2 separate regions of the Homo sapiens genome follow, and region 2 is linked to region 1. The links come from fine-mapping of genetic effects on gene expression. A gene starts in region 1. The other region holds a variant in brackets. All regions are shown on one strand. Distances are from middle to middle.

Region 1 (8,493 bases):
GTATATTTTATTAAAGAGGAAGGAAATTGATACCTAAGATGTGGTTTCTTTTTTTTTTTTTTTTTTTTTTTCAGATGAAGTCTTGCTCTCTTGCCCAGGCTGGGGTGCAGTGGTGCGATCTCGGCTCACTGCAACCTCCGCCTCCCAGGTTCAAGCGATTCTCCCGTCTCAGCCTCCCAAGTAGCTGGGACTACAGGCACCCGCCACCACGCCCGGCTAATTTTTGTATTTTTAGTAGAGACGGGGTTTCACCATATTGGCCAGGCTGGTCTTGAACTCTTGACCATGTGATCCACCTGCCTCGGCCTCCCAAAGTGCTGGGATTACAGGCGTGAGCCACTATGCCTGGCCTATGATGTGGTTTCTAACTAGTAAAACAGAGACTGATTTACATGTATATAAAGTTTCAATTTTCACTGTCATGATATTCAATCATTTGGAAGTTACTGGTATGATTTAGGACTAGGATACTTTCTTAATTAAGGAAAACTTTGTGTATACATATAGGAAATCAGAAATTAAAGCTGTCAGCTCTCTGCTTGAATTAGTTATTTTTAAGTATTACAGATATTAATCATATCCCAAATTTAATCTAATTTTTTTGTATATGTGCTGCCGAAATCAGCATCCAAGTTTGATCTCTAAACCTTAACTAGAGATTTCCGAACTCAACAATTCTGAAAATTTCCCATTCTATCTCAATAAACAGGAAACTGGCCTAATAATTAAATGGCTATTAGATTACTTGAAACTGTATCCCATTTGATGTTAATCTGAAACTTATGAACAGGAAAGAGCTTCATTTTTTTCATTTTATTCTAAGACTATAAGCATTTAGTGTAATAACACTTAAGAAATACACCTATGTATAAAATAAAGGTTTTCTCAAAATAGGTTTACTTTATAGGTATAATAGATTACACAAACTGAAAGCATGTGTGAAGGTAAGATTGAAAACAACAGTGCTTAGACTCTGGTTAACAATGTATTGTATAGTTGAAAGAGCTAGAAGAGAACTGTTGAATGTTTCCAACATAAAGAAAAGATGTGTGATATTCCAATTACCCTGATTTGATAATTACACATTGCATACATGTATCAAAATATCACCTGTGCCCCCAAAATACATACAACCACTACCTATCTATTTAAAAGTCCTGTAGTCTGAAATTCAAAACATATAAATACAGTCAGCCTTCTGTATCTGAGGGTTCCAAATCCTCCTTGCCTCAGATAATGAGGGACGACTCTATAATTCACAAGAAAAATTTAAAAGATTTTATTAGGAAATATTAGAAAAAAATTAAAAACAAACCTTTATCATCCTCCTTCAGACACACATCACAGGCTTCAATAATTTGAGCTAAATCAACATGAAGTCCACCTTCCGAGTTCTCTTCTGAAATCTCAGCTCCTTTAGATTTCAGATAAGCACGAAGCTCAGCAGCCTGTTGAGGATTGCTCTATTATAAAACTGACTACGAATGACAAAGCACAATCTCAAATTCTGTCCTCTTTCTGAAAAACTAAAACGGAAATACTGTATTCAACAACTATTTCAAATAATGTTGAAGACCCCTCCCTCACCTCATCCATCTTGGCAATCCCACAAGAGCCACAGGTTTTCCTCCATGAGGTCCAGTGGCTCCTTAGACACACTACAGCCCCCATGGATCACCTTCAGAATTTCTCTCATGTAGTCTGCACCCTGCTGGACTTCCAGCATACAGCAAAAATCTTTTTGATAATATAACCCAAAGGGTTTGGTGGGGGTGTGGTTGCTGGGGAGAAGAAATCAATCTGACTTGGCAGATTTCATTTTTTTGAAAGAAATGAACAATAGTATTGCTCTCAAGTACACACATAACCACAGCTACTAGAAAAGTTACAGACATTACCTTGGCAAAAGGGTAATCATTTGTTAATCAGTTGAGAAGCTATTTGAGATAAGCATTTTGGTTCACAAAAGGGCAATGCGGTGAATGCTGCCTTAAAATTACATCGAACTGGATCTGTTATGTAACTAATCTCTTAAAATTAAAAATGCATATCTGAGTCAGCATGCATCTTCGGACCTATAAAAACACAACTACAATAGCACATTCAGTCACTTGGACATTTCCTACCCTACTACCGAATTATATATATTTATTCCATTTTTCTTCTGGGACTCTTTATGGCAGCCAAACAAACGCAGTTTTTTTTTGTTTTGTTTTGAGATGGAGTTTCACTCTTATTGCCCAGGCTGGAGTGCAATAGCATGAGTGCAATGGAGCGATCCCGGCTCACTGCAACCTCTGCCTCCGGGGTTCAAATGATTCTCCAGCCTCAGCCTCCCAAGTAGCAGGGATTACAGGCATGCGCCACCATGCCCAGCTAATTTTGTATTTTTAGTAGAGGCAGGGTTTCATCATGTTCGTCAGGCTGGTCTCAAACACCTGACCTCCGGTGATCCACGGGCCTCGGCCTCCCAAAGTGCTAAGATTATAGGCGTGAGCCACCGTGCTCAGCCTGGTTTTAAAGATAATAAAATGAGGATGTGCAACAGGAATATGAAAGGATACCATTAGTAAATGCACAGGCATTACATTTTCTAGACCAAGCCAAAAAAAAAAAATTCAAAGCCATCAAGATTTTTAAACCCCCAAGTATATTTAGTTGCCTCAGGAAAGTATTAAACCTGCAGATCTGACGGTACTATCCTTTCAGGTAACAAGAACACAGTAACTTCATAGAAGAGTTGGTATTATAAGCAAAATTAAAAAAAGAAAACAAACTGTCACCATGTCAGAGAAAACAAAAATACCTCCAGAAATCATGCTTCATGCTTCTCTATGGAGGAAACAGATACACAGCAAACTTTTTCTAAGAACTATTGAACCACGTTTGCTGTTTTTCTGTCATCCTCACTGCCACAAGTGGTTGTGGAAGCAGCATAAGCAAAGGAAAACAAAAAAAGATAAAGAATTCCATTTAACTCTAATCAAGCTGAGAATTTCACCAAAGTTAAACTAATCCTGAGCAATTTCATATTTCCCTGAAAGGACTGTCTACAGCGATACTGATGTTACAAGAACAGAAGCAGAGCCTGAGAAAAGACACTTTAAGATACGATCAATGACAAGAACTTCCTCCATTCACTTTGTATGTTAAAAAAAAAAAAATTCCAAACACTTTCTCAGTTAACCTAACAGCCAACTGTTGGTAACATGCTTCCATTTCTAATCAGGTATCTTTTTGTCTTTCATATCTTCCTATCTGTGCTTAACCTCCCCATCCTTGACCTTTTCTCCGCCTTTTGCATTTTCCCTTCTTACTTTGCTCTTCAGAGCATCGGAACTGCATTCCTACCATGGGGCGGGGGGAGGAGAGAGGGGGAACTCACTCCCGCAATTCTGTAAGTTGTCTTAGACAAGTAAACTTCCATGCGAAGTTTATGATATCCAATCATTTGGAAGTTACTTCCGTGTTAGTGGAGTAACAGAAATAAAACGACAAAGTTAGGACTTCACAGAAGAATTTTCAGCAATACAAAATTAACTTAAAGAATACGATGTCGTGTTCAACTCCTACCAAATAAGGTTAAACTTTTGTTATGGGGAAAATGAGAACCATCAGCCCTGTATACCAAAGAGCAAACGCCAAACGGGAAATTTAAAAATATCAGGATGGTCCATCAGGTGTATGCCTCACAGAATTTAAGAGCTGAACTGATACCATACTTCCGGGGTACAGAACAACTCTCACCCTCATACAAGTAGGAATAGAAAGCAAGTGTAAAATACGGGTCGTCTTCGCCTGTGATCGCACAGTAATACGGGCGTTTTGATCTTTTTTTTTTTTTTTTTTTTTGAGAGGGACTCTCGCTCTGTCGCCCAGGCTGGAGTGCAGTGGCGCGATCTTGGCTCACTGCAAACTCCGCCTCGCGGGTTCAAGCGATTCTCTTGCCTCAGCCTCGGCAGTAGCTGGGACTACAGGCGCGTGCCACCGCGCCCGGGTAATTTTTTTGTATTTTTAATAGAGACAGGGTTTCACCGTGTTAGCCAGGATGGTCTCGATCTCCTGACCTCGTGATCTGCCCGCCTCGGCGTCCCAAAGTGCTGGGATTAAAGGCGTGAGCCACCGCGCCCGGCCCGGCATTTTGATCTTTAGCACAAAATTACTTTTCCCTACCCTGCTTATGCTAACTACAGATTCACCACCTCCCACTCCGAATGTGGCTGCATTTGACGGACGGAAGCAGACATCATTCCTCATCAGTCTAAAAGTACTATGTCGTCAGAAATGAGTCCCGACGCCGACCAGGGAGCTGGCGGTGAAGCGTCGGGCCCCGCGCTGGGACCGCCGGCCGGCGAGCTGGTGCGAATCGAGGCCAGGAACGCGCGCCCCAGCCACCGGCCTCCCCATTCTCGCGTGTAGAACAGCTGCGGGTGTCAGCCCCGGCCGCCCGGCCCAGGCTCGGCAGCGGTCCCTTGCGCTACTAGGACATCCCCCACCCCACCGTGGCGGCACCCGTAGACCGAAGCACACCTGATCTTCTTCACTGATGTCGATGAAGGCCGGGACGCTCATGGTGCAGGCCCGGGCACAGCGGACACTCCACTCGCAAGACCACGCCGACCGGAAAAGGGAACTGGGCCGCGCGACGCTGCTGGCGCAACTGCTTCCGGGTCACCCTGAGCGGCGACCTGTTGGGGCGGGGCCTTGAGAGCCAATCCTATCGCGCGCTCTCGCCGCGGAATGCAGCAGGGCGTGGCAGACGCGCTCGGGCTGGCCTAGTGGGTGGGACTTACTGGGCCTCCACTCAGCGACGCTTGTCGCGGCCTCCAGTTTTCAGGCCCGTGTAGCTAACTGCATTGATGTTGCCTCCCGCTGGCGCCTCCCTAAGTCCACCTTCCCTTGAAATGTTAAGCTTGTTGGGTCTTACCAAGTATGGATGGGTTTGTGTAGACCTGAAACTCTCCTGTACTGCTGTTGGGAACATAAAATGGTGCAGTCACTTTGCAGAGGAGCGGCAGTTTCTGAAAAAGTTCAGTATCCACCCAGCATATGACCCAGCTATTCTTCTACCCAAACTGTATGTCCGTACAAAGACTTGTACAAGAATGTTCATTGCCGCTTTTAAAAAATAGCAGCTTTGGCTGGGCGCAGTGGATCTCACGCCTGTAATCCCAGCACTGTGGGAGGCCGAGGTGGGCGGATCACTTGGGGTCAGGAACTGGAGACCAGCCTGGGCAACATGGCAAAACCCCGTCTCTACTAAAAATACAAAAATTACCGGGGCATAGTGGTGCGCGCCTGTAATCCCAGCTACTCGGGAGGCTGAGGCAGGAGAATCACTTCAACCTGGGAGAAGGAGGTTGCAGTAAGCCCAGATCATGCCACTGCATTCCAGCCTGGGCGACAGAGCGAGACTCCGTCTCATAAAATAAATACACAATTCAGTAGTTTTTAGTATTTTCAGAGTTGCACAACCATCACTACTATTTAATTTTAGAACATTTTCATCACCTACAAAAGAAACTACCCATCAGCAATCACTCCCCAGACCCCCGGCCCCACCTCTCTCCAGCCCCTGGCAAACACTACATTTTGTCTCTATGAATTTGCCTTTTCTGGACATTTCATGTAAGTGGAATCACAAAATACACGGTGGCCTAAGTCAGACTTACTTCATTTAGCATAATGTTTTCAAGGTTCGTCCATGTATCCCTCCTATATTCCTATTTATTGCTTATAATATTGCATTGTTATGGATATACCACATTGTGTTGATTTGTTCATCAGTTGGTGGACACTTGGGTTGTCTCCATTTTTTGGCTATTATGAATAATGTTTCCATGAACGTTAGTGCACAAGATTTTGTGTGTACGTATATTTCTCTTAGGTATGTACCTATGAGAGGAATCAGTGGCTTATTTAGTAAATTTATGTTTAGCTTTTTCAGGAGACAGTTTCCAAAAAGTTAACACTTTATTTTCAATAGCCAAAAAAAAGGAAACAACCCAAATGTTCATCAATAGATGAATGAAGTGGATCAAAAAATTGTTATACATCTGCTTAATGGAATACTGCTGTGCAACAAAAAAGGATGAATTATTGATACATGCAAAAACACAGATGAATCTTTTTTTTTTTTCAGTCTCTTCAGCCTGGGTGACAAAGTGAGTGAGACTCCATCTCTTAAAATAAAAGCTTGATTTTTTTTCTTTAGTTGACAATCCCAAAATAATTCAAAATAATTTTGTTCAGTTAATCATCATACTGTATGATTCCATTTATATAAAACTCTAGAAAGTAGAAACTATAATGACAGCATTATAGATTGCTGTTGCCTGGGGGCAGGGATTGGGTAAGGCGGGGGGAAAGATGGATACAGAGGGGCTTGAGGAAGTTTTTGGGGGTTATGGATGTGTTCATTATTTTGACTGTGATTGTGTCATGATTGTATACATATATAACATTTTTCAAAGTGTGCAGTTCAAAAATGTGCAGTTTATTGATACCACAATTATACTTCAATATAAAATAAATGCCAAGCAAAGGAAAAAAACAAGGTTGAGGGGATAGAGGACACAAAACATCTGGCTAGACTAAATTTGAAAGGATTCATTCTTGCATGGAATAGCCTTAACAATGTGGAAAGTGAAACTGAAGGCAGGGAACCTGTGTCATGTTCACCCTGCATTTCCGCACCCACCTCAGTGCCCAGCCCACAGCAGATCATCAGGAAATACCAGTTGATTCTGAAGGAATAATCCCTGGGCTCCTCCCCTCGCCTTATTATTGCAAAGTTCGAGGAATACAAACTCAACAATACAATACCATTTTATCAAATATTTAAAAGACTTGTCTCTTTTTTACTATTGTTATTTTTTTTTTCATTCTGTGATCCTTGTGAAGTAAAAGAACACCCAGGGAAATTCTTGAGAGAGGATATGGACAGTTATTTAAAACTTTAAACTTTCATTCATTCAAAATAAACACACACACACACACACACACACACACACACACACACACACGATGGAGGTGTGGTAGGCCCGAGTAGTCTTGGGAAATGCAACATTTGAGTAGGAAATGCGGAAATGCCTGTCCTCAGTTATTTAAAACTTTAAACTTTCATTCATTCAAAATAAACACACACACACACACACACACACACACACAGGATGGAGGTGTGGTAGGCCCGAGTAGTCTTGGGAAATGCAACATTTGAGTAGGAAATGCCTGTCCTCACCTAGGTCAGGATGAATCTTGTGAGACAAAGTAGCAAACCTAAGAAGGAATGTTTGCTCATTCTGTTTGCCAGAGAATTTCGCAAAGCCCCTGACTCAGTGAGTGAGGGCAACCCTCTGGAAGAATACCCTAAAGATAAACAGGATAGAGCACAGGTCCCCATTCTCTTGCCTGAATCACTGCAGTTTTAGAAAACATAAGTTCAATGATCCTAGCCTCTGCCTCTTCATGTGCATGGGTATAATGCACACCCATGTCTGACAGCAATAATGATTATGTCTCCATAATCTATAACCAGATGGACCCTGGCACCCAAACCATGATGTGATTTCGCTCTAATGTAACTTCTGAGCACATTTAATGTAACTTCTGAGCACAGGCAGAGCCACCACTGATGTACACAAACTGTGTGCGGAAACACTGCTTTGGAGCAGTTTAACAGAAACTCTCTGGAAGACTCTCTGGGTTGCAATCCTCGGTAAGACCTCTGAATAAAACTAACTTTAATTCTTTAAAAGCTTGGCTGGTGCGGTGGCTCATGCCTGTAATCCCAGCACTTTGGGAGTCCAAGGCAGGTGGATCACTTGAGGCCAGGAGTTCCAGGCCAGTCTGGCCAACATGGTGAAACCCTGTCTCTACTGAAAATACAAAAATTAGCTGGGACCTGGTAGGCTGAGGCAGGAGAATCACTTGAACTCAGGAGGTGGAGGTTGTAGTGAGCTGAGATCACGCCACTGCACTCCAGCTTGGGCGACAGAGTGAGACTCCAAAAAAAAAAAAAAAAAAGGAAAAGGAATCACCAGGGAGTTGAACAAAGCCCCACCATCTGCAAGGCAGTATTATCTTAGTTTAATTTTTACCTGAAAAATACAACCAAATATGTACAGTTTTTCTTTATTGTTTAATTTGTCTATGTTCCCTTTGTTATCTCCTTTCTGATTAAAAATTCCGGAAAATGTGGATTTAACTATGTTTTTAAGTATTCTATTTGCAAGAGCCATATTAATATATTTGCTTGAAATTGTATTATTGGAGCAAAGTTATATTTTTTACAAGAATGCTTTGCATGACAGTAATATCTAAAATTTGTTTTCAAGTCTGTATCAGCATCTCAGAATGAGGCAATTATTCATCTGATAAACGAAAGTATATTTTTATGCTAAAATAGTATATGTGGCCAGGTGCGGTGGCTCATGTCTGTAATCTCAGCACTTTGGGAGGCTGAGGCAGGCAGATCACCTGAGGTCAGGAGTT
Region 2 (8,493 bases), 280 kb before region 1:
AGACGGAGTTTTGCTCTTGTTGCCCAGGCTGGAGTGCAATGGCGCCATCTTGGCTCACTGCAACCTCTGCCTCCCAGGTTCAAGTGATTCTCCTGCATCAGCCTCTTGAGTAGCTGGAATTACAGGCACCTGCCACCAAGCCCAGCTAATTTTTTGTATTTTTAGAAGAGACAGGGTTTCACTATGTTGGCCAGGCTGGTCTCGAACTCCTGACCTCAGGTGATGCACCTGCCTCGGCCTCCCAAAGTGTTGTGATTACAGGCATGAGCCACCATGCCCGGCCAATCTTAGTGAAATTATAAGACATTTTGATTTTTAATTCTGAAACTGTTTCTTTTGAAAACTTTTCAGATTCATATCTTAGAAGTTCAGCTTTTGTTGTGTCTCACTGCTTTCAGCTTATTCTCCTCTTGAGAAGGCCTGAAATGAGAAATCTCTCCTTCTGCTTTTTTATCAGCTTCTGTAACTTTTTTCCTCTGGTTCTAACTGTTGTTGTGGCCTGATGCTGAAAAGTGGTATCTTGAAGGTCTGAAAAAGCAATGCTTTCCTCCAGTATAGCTTGATTCTGTACTCTTGACTTTTCTTGATATGTCTAAATTTTTAAATGTAATTAGGAAACTTCTCATGCAATTACTAAGAGTCATGTATTCCCTTGCTATGCTATACTCATAACTTTGAAAACACTCTTCCTGTGTCTGATTAAGTTCAGGTACTCTATTCTTCAGGTTTGATTTCTAGGTTATCTAAATGGGCTTCTCATAAGGAGAAGCAATCACACTGCAAATGTTTTCTCTTTGCCTTTCTGGCAAATGGCTTAAGAAACAAGATTTTGCATTTTATTAAGATAATTCCTGGCCTGGCATGGTGGCTCATGCCTGTAATCCCAGCACTTTGGGAGGTCAGTGTGGGCAGATCACTTGAGGTCAGGAGTTCGAGACCAGCCTGGACAACATGGCAAAACCCCGTCTCTACTAATAATATAAAAATTAGCCAGGTGTGGTAGCGCGTACTTGTAGCTACTCGGGAGGCTGAGGCAGGAGAATCCTTTGAACCTGGGAGGTGGAGGTTGCAGTGAGCCGGGATAGTGCCACTGCACTCCAGCCTGAGCGACAGAGCAAGACTCTGCCTCAAAAAAATAAAAATAAAATAAAAAAGATAATTCCTATATTGTCTGTATTAATTTTTTGCTTCCTTAGGAAACTTGAGCTTTAAAAGAGTTAAGGCCAATCACAGTGGTTCATGCCTGGAATTCCAACACTTTGGGAGGCCAAGGCAGGCAGATCACTTGAGCTCAGGAGTTTGAGACTAGCCTGGGCAACATGGTGAAACCCTGTCTCTACAAAAAAATATTAAAAAAATAGCTGGGTGTGGTGGTGTACGCCTGTGGTCCCAGCTACTCAGGGGAGCCTGAGGTGGGAGGATTGCTTGAGGCTGGGGGGCAGAAGTTGCAGTGAGCCGAGATCGTGCCACTGTATACCAGCCTGGGCAAGAGTGAGACCCTATCTCAAAAAAATAAAAATAAATAAAATGGTTAAAATTTGTATCTTCATGTCACTTTCTGTATTGCTCTTGAAGTATTTTGACTGTCACTCTTGATTAAATGAATAACTATTCTGTTTTTATCAAATATTTTGAGGCTTTTTACATCTTTGACAAATGTCCTCAAAATCAAATAAACATTGCTAATTCTTTCAACATGTAAAGCTTTTACATAAGTCAATTTTGTAACCTTGCCTTTTGGTTTTTGGTTTTTGGCTCTTTTGTTACTTAAAAGGGTTTTAAGGGTTAAGTGTCTACTCACTTCCATTCCCATCTGGCTTAGAATGATTAATTAGCTATAAGTTTTTTTACTCTAAGTCCCTTGGCCATAGGGATCCCACCAAGGGACATGATGGACCTGGGTCAGGTAGCCACACCATCCTGGCAACAATATGGGACAAAATAAAAGTTTAGCCATTGATGCTGCCTCTGGCATATCTTGATCAAAAAACAGAAATTTAAACTAAAAAATGAAGTCCTAAGCACCCCACCAATCGAATGGATCCCCCTTGACCAAGTGAACCCCCAAGAAAAAAAACTTAAAAAAAAAAACATAGTTCCCAGCCATGAGAGGACAGGAGGTCAGACACACTTCATTATACCCTTTTCCTTTTATGGTTTAGACACAGCAACTGACCAGAGTTAACATTAAAACATAAACTCTTTGTGGCAATAAGATACCAAAGTATAAATAGGACCTAAGGCCATGCCAGGCAAGAGTTAAGTCTCCACTCCAAGGAAAACATGGGTCATATGTTACATATATGTTTGTTCAATATGCATGTGTCAGGACCACCTTCATAAATATTTATAGTTCCTTCTGTAACCTGCTAAATATGTATATTTAGCCAACCTGTCAATATCCCCACAGGGGCCCTGGTTACAATTGAGAGTGAGGAACAGGTTTATTTACTTACGGATATGAGGGCCACATATTCTATAGCTAGTACCTATCTATGCCCTGATTCACAGAAGACTATGATGGTTATGAAAATGTCAGGGAAATCTATGACTTGCTCCTTCCTTCAACCTTTAGATTGTCATCTTGGAGACCATGATCAATGGGAAAAACTAAAAAAAAAATGAACCAAACTCGAAATAAATAATTTAGCAATTGCCAAATATGTTAAGACTCTAGGCACTATACTAAATTCTATTCATGAGTTTGCTTCTAGCAGGATCACTTATTCCACAAACATGGCCCTCCATCCTTCTCAACTGGGAGATCAGGTCCTCCTAAAAACCTGAAAGGAACAAGGACCTGAACGTCAGCTTGCTACCAGGTCAAATGGTTTGGTTTCACAGTTGCCCCACATGAACCTTGTTCAACAGGGAGTAGCCAGATGAGAGACAACATCCCATTGTCCCTAATTCCACAAGACTGTGGAATGAGCCTTTCACAGTGGGGAATTGTAACAGTGAAATAGCAAAGAACTAACATAACTAACTCAATTTTTGTTTAAGTGGCCTTCCACCATTCCAGCTAATTTTAGAGCACTGAAATAATATGCAAAAACAGTAATCATGTAATTTTTACAACTAAGTCTGGGATTAAAGGGTAAGTATCTAAACAACTAACTATGTTTTGTTAAAGATTTACAGGAGCATTGTGAACTGACCAAGGGCAAAGAAGTTTCCAACCTCCTCTGACCCTTGCTGGTGCCCAGATATCTGCAGTCCTCGGTCACCTCTTGATCCCAACCCCCTCCTCTTCGCTTTATTCCCCTCCCATAAAAACTCTCCAGCCAACCTGAAAATTTAAGATGGTGCTTTAGCATACAGTTCACCATCTTGTCAATTTTGCTGGTTTTCTGAATGAACCTGGTTTCCTCCCATCAACCCTTGTCTCTTGTGTCTGGCTTTCTAGCAGCAAGCCGTTGAACCTGGGTTCAGTTACACTTATGCTGAAAGTAGAACAGAGAAGGAAATGGAAAATAGTGGATCAATCAAGGAAGTACAATATTCAGCCAATATGAATCGCAGAAAAAGCAGAGAAAACAAAGGTAAGGAAACTAGCAAAAAATTACACAGGAGTATTTCCTAGAATTGGAGGGCACAGATCTCTAGAATAAAAGGAGGTATTGGATGCCATGAACAATAAATGAAAACTTATCCCAAGCCTCAGAATCATAATTTTTTTTTTTTTTTGAGTCAGGGTCTCACTCCGTCACCCAGGCTTGAATGTAATGGTGCAATCTTGGCTCACTGCAACCTCGGCTCACTGCAACCTCCACCTTCCAGGCTCGGTTGACCCTTCTGCCTCAGCCTCCCGAGTAGCTGGGACCACAGGCAGGCACCATCACGCCTGGCTAATTTTTTTTTGTATTTTTGGTGGAGATGTTGTTTCACTATGTTGCCCAGGCTGATCTTGAACTTTGAGCTCAAGAGATCTGCCTGCCTCAGCCTCCCGAAGTGCTGGGATTACAGGCATGAGCCATCGCACCCAGCTATTTTTTTTTTTTTTTTGAGACAATGTCTTGCTCTCTTGCTCAGGCTGGAGTGTAGTGACCCAATCACAATTCACTGCAGCCTCAACCTCCCAAGCTCAGGTGATTCTCCCACCTCAGCCTCCAGAGTAGTATGGAGTTTGTACCATCAAGCTAATTTTTAAAAAAATTTTTTGTAGAGACAAGGTCTCACTATGTTGCCTAGGCTGGTCTCAAACTCGTGGGCTCAAGCCTCCTAAAGTGTTGGAATTAGAAGTATGAGGCACCATGCCTGGACAGACTCATGAATTTGAGATCACCAGGGATGAAAAGATTTGAAAGGTTCCAGTGGGAAATAAAGGGTCATGTGCAAAGTCATGAAATCAGAATTATTGTTAGAATTCTTGATTGCAATCAAATGCTAGAAGACATTAGAGGAATATCTACAAAATGCCAAGGGAAATGATTATTAACCTAGAACACGATACACAGCCATGTTATAAATCAAATGTGGGGTAAAGAAGACATTCAGGGATATGCTAGGACTGTGGGTTTGATCTGATCTTCTTCAGCTCCTTTCCATCTGGGTGAATCTGCCTTGGTCAGCTAAGGAGTAGGACCAGTTTCCCAAGCTGCTCTCAATTTATTGTCTCTGATATAAGCACTTTAATCAGTTTATGGCTATTTAATGCTAGGAATTGTAGAAAAATGAACAGGTAAAATTAGTAAATAGTGAGACATTACAAGGTTTTCAAGAAACAATAAGATATTAGCATTAGTTGTTATATGATATTTATATGACTTTACAATTGAAAGACTTTTTATTTATTTATTTATTTTTTGAGACAAGGTCTTGCTTTGTCACCCAGGCTGGAGTGTGGTGGCCCAATCTTGGCTCACTGCAACCTCTGCCTCCCAGGTTCAAGTGATTCTCCTGCCTCAGCCTCCCAAGTAGCTGGGATCACAGGCTTATGCCACCATGCCTGGCTAATTTTTGTATTTTTAGTAGAGATGGGATTTCACCATGTTGGCCAGGTTGGTCTCCAACTCCTGACCTCAGGTGGTCCAACCACCGCAGCCTCCCAAAGTGCTGGGATTACAGGCATGAGCCACCATGCCCAGCCTGAAAGACTTTTTAAATATGCTTATATGAAAGGAAAGATCATATGGAAGGCACATGAAGGCCTAGAAACTGGCACATGATAGGGC[C/T]TTTGGTGGACAGAACCTAAAGTGATTCTCAAGGCTTGCTCACTTCTGGTATTTACTCCTTTGTAGAATCTTCTCCTGATGAGTTAATAAAACCCATGACTTCTTTCTAACCAATAGAAGGTGATGAGATGTCACTCTTGTGAAGATGTTATATTATATAAGGCCTCATTTTATAGCAGGCACACTCTAGAGGTCTCTTTGCTGGCTTGACAGAGTGAGGGCCATGAGGAGGAAGCTGATGTGGCAAGGAACTACAGGTAGGTTCTAGGAACAGCAGGCAGCTTCTGGAGCTATGGTTGCCTTATTGTCTCCTGCCCATAAAGGGTTTCAGTCTTACAGATGCATCAGAATGAATTCTGCTAATAATTCAAGAGAGACTTCACAGTGGAGTTTTCTATAGTAAAGCCTCCAGATGAAAACACCTTGACTCCAACCCTGGCCAACACCTTGATTCCAACCCTGTCAAAGCTTAAGTAGAGGACTCTGCTAAGCTGTGCCTGGACTCTGACTGATAGAAACTGTGGGATGTGTGTTGTTTGAAGCTGCTAATTTGTGGTATTTTGTTATGAAGCAATAGAAAACTAGTATAGTGTTCAATACATGCTAACTCGCATTGCCTAGAAAGACAAATATCATATTATCTTACTTATATGTGGAATCTTAAAAAGTCATACTCCTAGAGCCTGTAAACCCAGAAACTCCAGAGGCTGAGGTGAGCAGATAATGTAAGCCCAGGAGTTTGAGGCTGCAGTGAGCTGCAGTGAGCTATGATTGCACCACTGCACTCCAGCCTGGGCAACAGAGTGAAACCCTGTCTCTAAAAAAGAATTAGAAAGTCTTTCTCATTCCATTGTCTGGATGTGCCACAGTTTATTTATCCATTCACCTACTTAAGAACATCTTGGTTGCTTCCAAGTTTTGGCAATTATGAACAAAACTGCTTACAAACACCTGTGTGCAGGTTTTTGTGTGGGCCTGAGTTTCCAACTCTATTGGGTAAATAGTAAGGAGCATGATTGCTGGATGATATGGTAAGAGTATGTTTAATTTTGTAAGAAACTACCACTGTCTTCCAAAGTGGCTATACCATTTTGCATTCCCACCAGCAATGAACAAGAGTTCCTGTTGTTCCACATCCTCACCAGCAGGATGTTTTGTGGTGGTAGTGTTTTAGATTTGGGGCATATTAATAGGTGTGTAGTGACATCTCACTGTTGCTTTCATTTGTAATCCCCTAATAACCTATGATGTCAAACATCATTTCATATGCTTTCTTGCCATCTGCATATCTTCTTTGGTGAAGTGTCTTAGTCTTTTGCCCATTTTTAAATTGACTTGTTTGTTTTCTTGTTGTCGAGTTGTAAGAGGTCTTTGTTTATTTTTGGACACATTTTATCATACATGTCTTTTGCAAATATCTTCTCCTGGTCTGTAGCTTGTCTTCTCATTCTCTTGATAAAAGTAATTTTAAGGAGTATAAATATTAACATTCATGTCTAACTCATTTGGATCCAAAAAAATTTAAGGTGGTCTAAATGTTTAACATTAAATAATACTGAATAATAATCAATGTTCACTTATGTGTATGATACTTCGTATTACTTCTTTTAAGCTGGAAGTCTTGCTATATTACTCTTATAATTTAGCATAACATTACTACTGATTTTTTCAATTATGTATAGATATAGCTCAAAAAATAACTTTAGTATTAAGGAGTAATATATTTGCCTCAAACACTATATTAAATATTTAAATTTTGTTAAAGAAAATACCACTTTCACAACTGCAACTAAATTGTCTAAATAGAATGCTAGCCCCATTGGGTGAAAGATATACATTGACATCATGCTATAAATATTGTTTTGAAAACACTCAATGTGTTGTTCAAATTTAATTAATATAATATCATATTTCATTATATGCCATTATATGAGGAAGAATGCTTAAATGAAACAAGCAATAAATACTCACTTGGTATAAAGTTTATTTGCATGTGTAAAAAGTGTATATAACAGGAAACCTCTTAAAATAAAAACATAGTAAAGTTTTAGGAAAAATATGAATTTAGAAAATGGGTTGCTTTTTCAGATCACAAAAATACTGATATATGTGTACTAAATTACCTTAAACTGTTGAGGTGTTAGAGAAACATTTTTCAAAAAACAAAAAAAGTTGGAGGTTGGAGGAGACACAAAATATAGAAGAATGAAGGTACTGATATATGTCACACATGTTTTAAAATGACCACACAGGCAGAATCTACAAAAGAATCAAATTCTTTAAAAATACAGAAATGCTAGAGATTCCCCTAATAGTGTTAATGGCATACATAACATTCCAAATCAAATAACTAATAAAAATTTAATTCACATTCAATTAAAACAAAAACAATATGAGTAATGTGAAATTGAGTTTTTGTTAAGCACTGACAAATATTTAGCATTAAAAAGTCTCTTGTACGTCTAGGAAGAGTACACACACATAAATTATCTGAGAAGTAGAAAAATATGGATTAGAATTTTAGAGGCAAACTTGAAACCTAAGACATGGAGGACACTGTTGCTCTGCAGGTTTTAATTGTTCTGAGAGTTTTCTCTATGTATTTGTTCAGAGGGCATTAAAAGATGCAAAACTTGGGGCCAGGCACAGTGGCTCACGCCTGTAATCCCAGCCCTTTGGGAGGCTGAGGCGGGCGGATCACCTGAGGTCAGGAGTTTGAGACCAGCCTGGCCAACATGGCAAAACCCCATCTCCACTAAAAATACAAAAATTTGCAAGGCGTGCTGGCAGGTGCCTGTAATGCAGCTACTCAGGAGGCTGAGGCAGGAGAAATCCTTGAACCTGGGAGGCGGAGGTTGCAGTGAGCCATGATCACTCCACTGCACTCCAGCCTGGGTGACAAAGTGAGACTCCTTCTGGAAAAAAAAAAAAAAAAGATGCAAAACTTTGACACAGCAGTCCAGTGTGGTGGCTCATGCCTGTAATCCCAGCACTTTGGGAGGCCGAGGTGGGTGGATTCCTTGAGCTCAGGAGTTAGAGACCAGCATGGGCAACATGGTGAAACCCTGTCTCTACAAAAAACACAAAAATTAGCCAGGTGTACCGAGGTGCACCTGTGGTCCCAGCTACTTAGGAGGCTGAGGTGGGAGGATTGCTTGAGCCCCGAAGTTCAGGCTACAGTGAGTTGTGATTGCACCACTGCACTCCAGCCTGGGTAGCAGAGCAAGACCTTGTCTCAAAAAATTAAAAATAAAAATACTTTGACATAGTCAAAGTTTGTGCTCTCTTTAATTTTTTTCATTATCAAAAGAGAATATTC

Evidence for each region. PIP is the estimated chance that this variant, and not a neighbour inherited with it, causes the effect.
Region 2: its variant is the best candidate, but not a certain one, in a credible set for the expression of EIF3M in whole blood (INTERVAL, PIP 0.57).

The regions. Positions count from the first base shown.
Region 1 is chr11:32,579,967-32,588,459 of GRCh38, reverse strand. EIF3M (eukaryotic translation initiation factor 3 subunit M) reads right to left here and starts at 4,629. Exons shown (of 11, transcript NM_006360.6): 1 at 4,531-4,629; 2 at 1,316-1,448. The coding sequence starts at 4,572. RefSeq lists silencers at 1,654-1,753, 4,784-4,843 and enhancers at 4,474-4,623, 4,266-4,918.
Region 2 is chr11:32,856,769-32,865,261 of GRCh38, reverse strand. It overlaps PRRG4 (proline rich and Gla domain 4), which reads right to left. Exons shown (of 6, transcript NM_024081.6): 6 at 7,142-8,493. Among named protein-coding and RNA genes, the nearest start is that of PRRG4, 31 kb to the right of the region's middle. The variant C/T (reference allele first, on the strand shown) is at 5,175.